Linked DNA regions of Homo sapiens: region 1 is reported to be linked to region 2. Evidence: microRNA targets listed by miRTarBase, many of them from high-throughput screens and not tested one by one. Region 2 holds a microRNA gene; the other region holds the end of a gene's coding sequence.

Evidence for each region. Region 2 holds the annotated microRNA hsa-miR-5009-5p (UUGGACUUUUUCAGAUUUGGGGAU, at 3,065-3,088, shown strand). A microRNA usually pairs through its seed, bases 2 to 8, with sites in the 3' UTR of a target mRNA and lowers its output. Matches are read on the target gene's strand: a 7mer-m8 pairs with bases 2 to 8, a 7mer-A1 pairs with bases 2 to 7 and ends in A, and an 8mer does both.
Region 1: miRTarBase lists NDOR1 as a target of hsa-miR-5009-5p. Seed matches in the 3' UTR shown: 7mer-m8 at 3,376-3,382.

The regions. Positions count from the first base shown.
Region 1 is chr9:137,216,037-137,221,036 of GRCh38, reverse strand. It overlaps NDOR1 (NADPH dependent diflavin oxidoreductase 1), which reads right to left. Exons shown (of 14, transcript NM_014434.4): 13 at 4,849-4,943; 14 at 1,676-4,765. The coding sequence ends at 4,621. RNF208 (ring finger protein 208) reads left to right here. Exons shown (of 2, transcript NM_031297.7): 2 at 1-778. The coding sequence ends at 610. It overlaps LOC122513141 (ring finger protein-like), which reads right to left and starts at 3,543. Exons shown (of 1, transcript NM_001395982.1): 1 at 1,676-3,543. The coding sequence starts at 3,040. The coding sequence ends at 2,435. RefSeq lists enhancers at 1,613-2,352, 2,353-3,092, 3,093-3,832 and a silencer at 3,496-3,673.
Region 2 is chr15:89,881,556-89,887,074 of GRCh38, reverse strand. MIR5009 (microRNA 5009) reads left to right here and starts at 3,045; the gene lies at 3,045-3,144. The region is part of intron 7 of ARPIN-AP3S2 (ARPIN-AP3S2 readthrough); the gene reads left to right. All of the region lies in intron 3 of AP3S2 (adaptor related protein complex 3 subunit sigma 2), which reads left to right. It also overlaps the pseudogene RNU6-1111P.

The DNA of each region.
Region 1 (5,000 bases), not on the chromosome of region 2:
TCTGGCACCCAAGCGTGCCTGGCCCTCAGACACAGAGATCATTGTCAACCAGGCCTGTGGGGGGGACATGCCTGCCTTGGAAGGGGCACCCCATACCCCGCCACTGCCACGGCGGCCCCGTAAGGGAAGCTCGGAGCTGGGCTTTCCCCGCGTGGCCCCAGAGGATGAGGTCATTGTGAATCAGTACGTGATTCGGCCTGGCCCCTCGGCCTCGGCGGCTTCTTCGGCGGCGGCAGGCGAGCCCCTGGAGTGCCCCACCTGTGGGCACTCCTACAATGTCACCCAGCGGAGGCCCCGCGTGCTGTCCTGCCTGCACTCTGTGTGTGAGCAGTGCCTGCAGATTCTCTACGAGTCCTGCCCCAAGTACAAGTTCATCTCCTGCCCCACCTGCCGCCGTGAGACTGTGCTCTTCACCGACTACGGCCTGGCCGCGCTGGCTGTCAACACGTCCATCCTGAGCCGCCTGCCGCCTGAGGCGCTGACGGCCCCATCCGGGGGTCAGTGGGGGGCTGAGCCCGAGGGCAGCTGCTACCAGACCTTCCGGCAGTACTGTGGGGCCGCGTGCACCTGCCACGTGCGGAACCCACTGTCCGCCTGCTCCATCATGTAGTAGCGCCTGCCTGCCCGCCACTGCCCGCTGAGCCTCGCTCGCTGCTTCTTCAGGGACCCGGCCCTGCCCTGCCGCCCGCTGACCCTTCCTTCCCCACCATGGCTTCCGGCCCCACCCCGAGTGGCATTGTCGCTGCAGCCAACTTTGCCATTAAAACTCTTTGCCAAAGTTTGCACCTGTTCCTGGACTGAAGCTTGCTCCTGTGGGCTGTGCTCAGGCCTGGGCCTAGGGTGGGCACCCAGGGCTGCAACCCAGAGAGGGCCCAGCTTGGAGCTGCCAGAGAGAGGCCCAGCGCTGCTCGGGTTGGGCCTGCCCTGCGCACTGGGGGCCAGGCTGGGCTGTGCATGCAGCTCAGGAGGGCCGGGTGGGCTGTGTCGGTGCAAACCCCCACACGTACAGAGTGGGCTGCTTGTGTGCGCCTGGCAGGACTACCTGGTGGGTGTGCAGAGACACCCCAGCTGGGCAGAGAGGACATTTTCAATGGTGTGGGGGTGCCTGTGTGGGGGACAACTCAGTTGATTTCCCTCCTGGTGCCCATCTGGACCTGAGCACCCACCTGGGTCTTCCAGGGTTGTGTGGGAGTAGCCTTTGGGCATGTGCAGGAGTTAGGGACAAAGACTGGCTGAAATGGTGGTAGGGGAATAAGGACCCAGCGCCTCCTGTCTGGCACCTGGACCACTTGGGTGGGAGGAAGAGCCCGCCCCAGGCTGGGTGCGGTGTCTCACGCCTGTAATCCCAGCACTTTGGGAGGCCAAGGCGGATGGATCACCTGAGGTCAGGAGTTCAAAACCAGGCTGGCCAACGTGGTGAAACCTCTTCTCTACTAAAAATACAAAAAAAATTATCCAGGTGTGGTGGTGCATGTCTGTAATCCCAGCTATTCAGGAGGGTGAGGCAAAAGAATTGCTTGAACTCGGGAGGTGGAGGTTGCAGTGAGCAGAGATCGTGCCACTGCACTCTAGCCTGAGTGACTAAGTGACGCTCTGTCTCAAAAAAAAAAAAAAAAAAAAAAAGCCCGCCCAGATGGTGAAGATGGGGTAACAAAGACAAGTAGTAACAATGGCATCCCCAGGAGCTGGTTTATTGAAAGCTGCTTCACGTTCCAGGATCAGTCCTCCATCTCTCGCTGGGCCACCTGATGTCTCCATCCCAGGTGTGGTGACATGAGGGTGTGCAGGGGCAGAGCTTATGTTCCAAGGCCTGGGTGGGCCCTTGTCCCCTGCAACACAGGCCAGCGCCAACCCCCACCTGGTCTGGGCCTGATCAAGTGGGGAGAGGAGCCTTTGCAGGCTGAATTTTCGCAGCATGGACCCCTCCCCCGGCTGGCCTGACCTTCAGGGACACACACTGGCCCTTATCTGAACACAGGGTGGGCGGAGTCCCTGCCCTCTCCAAGGAACTGACTCACTGCTGTATCTCTGTTTGCTTTCATGCCTGCTGTGCTCAGCTGGCCCTCGGAGGGGAAGTGTGGCCGGCGTCAGCCCGTGGCCAGTACGGTGCCCGTCTGCCGCAGGGTGAATGGGGTCCTGCTCACAGACTTTCCTGCTGGGCTGGCCTCCTCCAGGAGCTGTCCTTGGGCGCTGGTGTCCTTGGGTTCAGCTAGTGTCTGGGCAGCAGTGCAGCCATGGACTCTGGCAGGGTCAGGCCTCTGGGTAGCCCTGGTTGTGGGTTCAGCAATGGGAGGTCTTGATTGAAGGCCACTGCCCTGGACCCAACCTTGGGTTTTTCCAGCCTGGTCATCAGGCCTCACAGCACCCAGGCATGGGGACGTGGGCCAGTCTGGGCCCCCTGGCCTGTTGGCGGCGGGGCTGTCCTGGGCTCTGCTCAGCGGCCAGAGCGGTCCAGGAGCACGAAGAGCAGTCCCAGCAGCAGGAGCGGCGTGAAGACCAGCAGCAGCCCCAGAAGCTCAAGGGCCAGCAGGCTCAGCAGCGCCAGGCGGCGGGCACAGGGTCCCCGCTCCCGCAGGGTCCAGAGCCGGGCACCCAGGCAGGGTGGACAGGGCAGGAAGGGCAGGCAGCCCCGGCCGCCCACGGGCCCTGCCAGGAAGCGCAGCTGGTAGCGGTGCTCCAGGGAGCCCCAGGGCCCAGGGTTGCGGTGATAGGATGCAGGGGCCTCTCGGCGGGGCTGGCGTGAGGGCCCGTCGGCCTGTAGCAGCTCCTCCTGTAGCCGGCAGATCTCCCATTCCAGCACGGGCGTCTTCTGGCGGCACAGCGGGCAGCGCACCCGGCCCAGGTCGGCACTGGAGGCCGAGCCCAGCAGCCTGTGCAGGCAGCCCACACACAGGCCGTGGCTACAGTTCAGCAGGGCCAGGCGGCGCTCTCTGGGCCCGTAGGGCTCTGTGCAGATCGGGCACTCCTCCTCTTCCCCCTGCCCTGCTGCCTGCTCTCTCCCCTCCTCCTTCCAGGTTGGAAGGGCCCAGGCACCCTCCATGGCTTTGGCCCCCAGCAGGGGCTCACTGGCTGTAGTCTCAGCACCTTGGGGGTGCCCAAGGTCATCCCCTTTGCTTGCTGGTGCTTGGCACAGAGGGTCCAGGCACTCAGGGCCCAGAGAGGACCCAGGTGGACTGACAGGCCCAGAGCTGGAGTCGGCCAGGTGGAGGGTGGGGGCCCCAGGGCACAGTTCAGGGGTGGTGGCCCTGGGGCAGGAGTCAGGATAGGAGGACAGGGACCCCAGGGCGGCGACAGGGGCGGCCCTCAGGGAAGGCAGGGTCTGGGCTCCACCAGAGCTCTGGCACTGACCTCCCGGCTGGCTCTCCTCACTGGAAGTGGACTTGACTGGGGCCCCAGCAAGGCCTGCCTGCTCTGGGTGGATCCTGGGCCCACGCGGTGCTGTCCCCAGCCAGATCTGGCTGGAGCCCAGCCTCAGCCATGTTTAGTCCTGTGCCAGCGACCCGCCGACGACAGATCAAGACTCCAAGACAGCGAGGCGGGTGTGAACAGCCACCGAACTCCTCCAACAGGACTTTCCTTCCCAGTGCCTAAAGCCCCTCCCGGGGGTGGGGCTGCACAACCACGCCCCCTCCTGCCGCTCCTCTTTCCGGCAGTCTCGGCTCCCTAGCGGCACGGACGGCTTGGTTCCGCCTTCCCAGCACCTGCCCAGAACGCAGTCCTGGCGATCAGATCTTAGCCGACCCACTATGCCCTTAAGAACGAGGCAGTCAGGGCGCACATCCCATTAGAGGCAGACATAAGAGCTGCAGAGGCCACTCGGGCACAGGCAGCCCAACAAGGGTGCACCGTGGCGCCCACCCATCCAGCACCCAGCACCCAGGGCACCGGGAGGAGCTAGAGGACGCCCACCCATCCAGCACCCAGCACCCAGGGCACCGGGAGGAGCTAGAGGACGCCCATCCATCCAGCACCCAGCACCCAGGGCACCGGGAGGAGCTAGAGGAAGGAAGGAAGCCTGCGCTAGAAGTAACCACCCAGAGGCCACCATTTACTGCAAGGGTTTTTCTGGGACCAGGAGAGGAAGAGGCTGCTCTGGCCTGGGACACCCCCACTGCTCTCAAGGAGCTGGCATCTCAGTGGCCTCTGAGCCCAGCCTGAGCCCTGTGGGAGTGCGGGGGCAGTGACTGGAATGTGCTGCTGGGCAGGCTGCAGCAGCCGAGGTGGCCCCAGGGCAGAGGAGTGCAGCGCAGCCTCATGGGTGCCCTATGCCACCCCTGGTGCTCACTGGGCTGCTGATGCCGTCCTGGGTCACTGCACCGGTGAGGTGGAGCGGCCCAGGCCACCACCTTGACTGGGAAGGGGGTGGGGGGACGAGGACACAGCTCACTGTCAGGGTGGGGGAGCGCAGGGCTGGCTGGGCAGAGGCTGCAGTGGGGTCAGGCTCAAAGGGTGGGATCCAGGGTCAACAGGAGTGCGGCTGTGCTCGGGAGCTGGCTGTTCCCAGAGGACCAGCTGGCTGGTCCGAGAGGATGACGGCTGCTGGCCAGGAGCTCCCTCGTGGATGCCTTCCTGGGCTCCCAGGAGGATGGCTGTCAGAGGGGGCACGGGCAGCCGCGGGCCTCAGGCCCACGTCTCTGTCTGGAAGCGCCGTGTCTGCTGGAGCCTGGCTAGATACGCGGCTGCGTCCGGGCTGCAGAGTCCACCCTCCTCCTGGAAGATGGACATCAGGGCTTCCGAGACGTCCGCTGGCATGGACTTGGCGTTGCTAGAGGGGCAGGTCGCAGAAGGCGCAATGAGGCCTGGCACTCAGGGGCTGGGCCCACTCCTGCTGCACGCAGGCCAGCTCACCCTGCCAGGTAGAAGTATGCACCCTGGCGGTCCAGCAGTTCCCACACAAGCGACCCCAGCTCCCGGAGCCGGTGCTGCACATATACTTTCTGCTCCTGTAGGGCAGAGAACAGGGCTGGGGGCTGAGCCGGAGCTCCCTCCCCTCCTTTCCC
Region 2 (5,519 bases):
CCTGTAATCCCAGCACTTTGGGAGGCCAAGGTGGGTGGATCACTTGAGGCCAGGAATTTGAGACCAACGTGGTCAGCATGGTAAAACCATGTCTCTACTAAAAATACAAAAAATTAGCTGGGCCTGGTGGCATATGCCTGTACTCCCAGCTACTTGGGAGGTTGAGGTGGGAGAATCGCATGAACCCAGGAGGCGGAGGTTGCAGTGAGCCAAGATTGTGCCACTCCACTCCAGCCTGGGCAACAGAGTGAGACCCTGTCTCAAAAAAAGAAAAAAAGCTCAAGATCTAGCATCAGAAAATCTGGGTTTGGGTCATGAATCTACCATCTGAAAAGTGATATTAGGTTGTAGAATTCAAATGTGAGAATGTGCTTTATAGTACTGTTAACTGTATGTAGCAGGCTATAGAAATGTGTACATAATACGAGTTTATTTGAAAATTAAGGAAATATAGTGATAATGTATTTTAAAAATTGGGATGGAGTGCTTGCCTCAGCAGCATATATTCTAAAAGTGTACCAGTGCAGAAAAGATTAGCATTGCCACTATGCAAGGATGACATGCAAATTGGTGAAGCATTCCATATTATAAAAAATAAAGAAAATTTTTTAAAAGAGAAAAAAAAATTGGGCCACAGTTATTAGAGAAAATGGACCTTGGAGATTTGTATTAACAATACAAAAAGACTAACTTTATAACTTTTTTTACTTTTTTATTTATTTATTTTTTTTGAGATGGAGTCTTGCTCTGTTGCCAGTCTAGAGTGCAGTGGCACGATCTCAGCTCACCACAACCTCCGACTCCCTGGTTCAAGCGATTCTCCTGCCTTACTCAGCCTCTCGAGTAGCTGGGATTACAGGCACATGCCCAGCTAATTTTTGTAGTTTTAGTAGCGACAGGGTTTCACCATGTTGGCCAAGATGGTCTCGATATCCTGACCTTGTGATCCGCCCGCCTCGGCCTCCCAAAGTGCTGGGATTACAGGTGTGAACCACTGCGCCCGGCCTCTAACTTTATAATTTAATAGACACTTATTAAATATTTAGTGTACATTGTACATTGGATTTGGTAAGATCAGATAAGTAAAATGTAAAAATAATAGGAACTAAAAAGTTTGATTTTTTTTTTTTTTTTTTTTTTGAGACAAGGTCTTGCTCTCAAACTGTAGTGCAGTAGTGTGATCACAGCTCACTGCAGCCTCCATCTCCCAGGCTCAACCCATCCTCCTACCTCAGTCTCCTGAGTAATGGGGCCTACAGGCATGCGTCACCACATCTGGCTAATTTTTTGAATTTTTTAGAGATGAAGTCTCACCATGTTGTCCAGGCTGGTCTCGAACATCTCAGCTCAGGCAGTCTTCCCACTTTGGCCTCCCAAATTGCTGGGATTACAGGTGTGAACCACTGGACCCATCTGATCTTTGAAAAGACAATAAAAATTAATAAATAGTTGGCCTAATTGATATAAAGAAGATAGAAGTCAGAAATAGAAAACATTGTTTTAAAGGGATGATATATACATAGTTATACTACCAATATATTTGAAATAGCCGACTACAAAAATAACTGCTCTGGCCTGGGGCAGTGGCACATGCCTGTAATCCTAGCACTTTGGGAGGCCAAGGAGGGTGGATCACTTGAGACCAGGAGTTTGAGACCAGCCTGACCAACATGGTGAAACTTCGTCTCTACTAAAAATAGAAAAATTAGCTGGGCATGGTGGCACATGCCTGTAATCCCAGCTGCTTGGCTGTTTGGGTAGCCAAGGCATGAGAATCACCTGAACCTGGGAGGCAGAGGTTGCAGTGAGCTGAGATCACACCATTACACTCCAGCCTGGGCAATAGAGCGAGACTCTATCTCAAAAAAAAAAACAAGAACAAAAAACTGCCCAAATGAGGTCAACATAAAGGCACTGAAATAATATTAGGATGAAATAATAGATGTTAAAAAAAGAACTGACTCCCTAATGGGGTCACAGTAGAATTTTTTAAAGTTGAAGTACATTAAAACCTGGATGTTACATTAAGTTATTTTTTAAAACTTAGAACAAGGAATCCTACTACCTAAGCGCATTTTATGGAATAAATTGGTTATCATCCAAAAACCTGACTCTAAAAAGGAAGATGGGCCAGGCACAGCGGCTCACGCCTGTGATCCCAGCACTTTGGGGGCCGAGGCAGGAGGATCACGAGGTCAGGAGTTCGAGACCAGCCAGGCCAATATGGTGAAACCTTGTCTCTACTAAAAATACAAAAAAAATTAGCTGGGTGTGGTGGCATGCGCCTGTAGTCCCAGCTACACGGGAGGCTGAGGCAGAAGAATCGCTTGAGCTGGGAGGCGGAGGTTGCAGTGAGCCGAGATTGCGCCACTGCACTCCAGCCTGGGTGATAGAGTGAGACTCTATCTCAAAAAAAAAAAAAAAGGGGAAGATGTTCGTCAAATATTGCGTATTAGTACTGGTACAAAATTACTTACTAAGTAAAATCTTAGCCGACAATCAGTTGAACCAAGGGATTGTGAGACCTGCCTTTTTTTTCTTTTTGACTCTGCCATTAACAAGCAGTGTGACCTTAAACAAATCATCTAGGCTTTATTGGCCTTAAGGGTTTTTGTTTGTTTTGCATTTTGTCTCTTCTGTGTGTTGAGTGGTTTTTTTTTAATCTACAAAGATACTAGATATTCTTTTCTAGCCCTAAAATTATTTCTTTAGCAGGAAAACTGCATACTATTAAATAGAAGAATTATACATTGTGTCCAAATAGTATTTATCCCAAGAATGCAAGTCAGTATAACAAAGAAAAATTAATAGTCTATTATAGCAGTAAGAAAAACTAATATAATAAAAATTAGTAGTTGCTGAGAGGAGCGATTATACAAATTATATTAAATACACTCAAACTGGAATAAGAAGCATTTTTGATTAAAAGTACACATTTATTAATGTAACTGTTTACTTTCTGAAGAAATGAATATAGTTATGTGGTTCAGAATTCAGAGGCACACTATGAGTATACAGGTTGAATATCCCTTTGAAATGTTTGGGACCAGAAGTGTTTTGGATTTTGGACTTTTTCAGATTTGGGGATATTTGCATTATACTTATCCTAAATCTGAAAGTCCAAAACCTGAAATGACCAATAAGCATTTCCTTTGAGCATCATGTTGGCACTCAAAAATTTTGGATTTTGCAGTGTTTTGGATTTCAGGTTTTTGGATTTTAAGTGTTCAACCTGTATAGTGAAAAATATCCTTCTTCCCCTTTCCCCTTATCACCTAGTTTACTTTCCTTGAAGCAATCAATTTTAGTTTCAAAACCAAGAGCCAAGAACCAGAGCCAATGTTATCTCAAGGGTGAAATCTGTAGGCATTTATGAATGCTCTTGTTGGGTGTTTCGTCCAGGTGCAGTGGCTCATACCTATAGTCCCAACCCTTTGGGAGCCTGAGGCAGGAGGATCACTTGAGCTCAGGAGTTCAAGACCAGCCTGGGCAACATAGTGAGACCTAGTCTCTATAAAAAATCAGGTGGTGTGCCCCTGTGGTCCCAGCTACTCATGTGGCTAAAGCAGGAGGACTGCTTGAGCCCAAGGGGTTGAGGTTTCAGTGAGCCATATTCATGCCACTACACTCCAGCTTGAGTGACAGAGCGAGATTCTGTCTCAAAAAAAAAAAAGGAGTATCTTTTATTGTTTACTCTAATTTTAACAAACATTTGTAGTGAGTGATACAAAAACAAATGAAGAAGTGACATAGTAAAGAAAGAAAGAGAGGTAAGTTATCAATGTAAGGTGGCCGGATTATGGACATAGAAAATATTTTTAAAGAATTATAAGTAAGGAAATGATATGAGCAAAATGACAGAATATGAGATAAAGCCAACAAAATTAAATTTCCTATTTCTGAGAAAACAGCTAGAAAATTCATAATTAAAGAAGTCTCATTTACAGTAATAATAAAGGATAGTTAGTGCTTGGGAATTAACTTGGTATGGAATACTTGACATTGATTCCAATAAAATTATAAAATCTTAAAGAAAAAACAAAGGAATAGTTGGAACAAATGGAGCTACAAACTCTCCCGTTGTTGGGAAGAGTCAAGCAAAGATGACAGTAGTCCCAAAGGTGGTGAGCAATACATCAAATGGAAAACCAAGTATAATTCCGTCAGGAGAGTTTATAGAACTCAGTAAAGGCAAAATTTATCAGGGAAAAGGAGTGGCCAAGAAATGCAGAAGTATATTTCTAGGGAAAAAGGACAGTGATGGGAGATTTGCTTTACTAGTTTTCAGAATGTATAATAGTTACAGATGAATTGATTATCTAGAAAATCCAAATCAGTTGGAAACAATTGGAACTAATAATAGAGTTCTGTAAGGTGACTAAATACAAGTTTAACATATGGAAATTAGTAGCTTTTGGCCAAGCACAGTGGGTCACGCCGGTAATCCCAGTCCTTTGGGAGGCCGAGGCGGGCAGATCACTTGAGGTCAGGAGACTTTGAGACCAGCCTAGCCAACATGGAGAAACCCCGTCTCTACTAAAAATACAAAAAATTAGCCGAGTGTGGTGGCACATGCCTGTAATCGTAGCTACTCAGGAGGCTGAGGTAGGAGAACCTCTTGAACCCAGGAGGCGGGGGTTGTGGTGGGCTGAAATTGTACTCTGGCCCGGGCAACAAGAGCGAAACTCCGTCTCAAAAAAAAAAAAAAGAGTAGGTCAAAGCAGAACAGGGGGGTAAAATGAGTGTTCTCAGCTGATTCAGGTAGCAGAGCACCTAGGATAACAGACACTGGATACTTTGTTTCTTTTTTTAATTAATATGAATAAAACTACTCTAAGTCTTTATGCAAACGGTTGTGCCTATTCTGCTAAAAACAGAATGCCTGGATCAAAGGGAATTAATATTTCTAATCATAATGCATGTTGCTAGATAGATATTTAGAAAGAGTATGTTAGCCAGGCACGGTGGCTCACACCTGTAACCCCAGCACTTTGGGAGGCCGAGGCGGGCGGATCACCTGAGGTCAGGAGTTCAAGACCAGCCTGGCTAACATGGTGAAACCCTGTCTCTACTAAAAATCCAAAAAGTTAGCCGGGCGTGGTGGTATGCACCTGTAATCCCAGCTACTTGGGGGGTTGAGGCAGGAGAATTGCTTGAACCCGGGAGGTGGAGGTTGCAGTAAGCTGAGATCGTGCCATTGCGCTCCAGCCTGGGCGACAACAGTGAGACTCCATCTCAAAAAAAAAAAAAATGAAGAGTATGTTAATTTATAATGCCTCTAGTACTATATAAGTTTGTTTCCTTGTAACTCCAGTACTGAAATGTGTCATTTTAAATTTCTACCCAGGTAGAGGTACCTCACACATTTGAATTTTTATTAATCATGCTTCCTTTTTCCACGTGTGGGTTTATAATTTTGTTTTCCATGTCAGCCTTCTATAATATAATTGAACCACTTGTCCAGTGAAATCTAGATCCTGGCTTATAATGTCATATTTTGTATATTCTAAGGTGCGCAT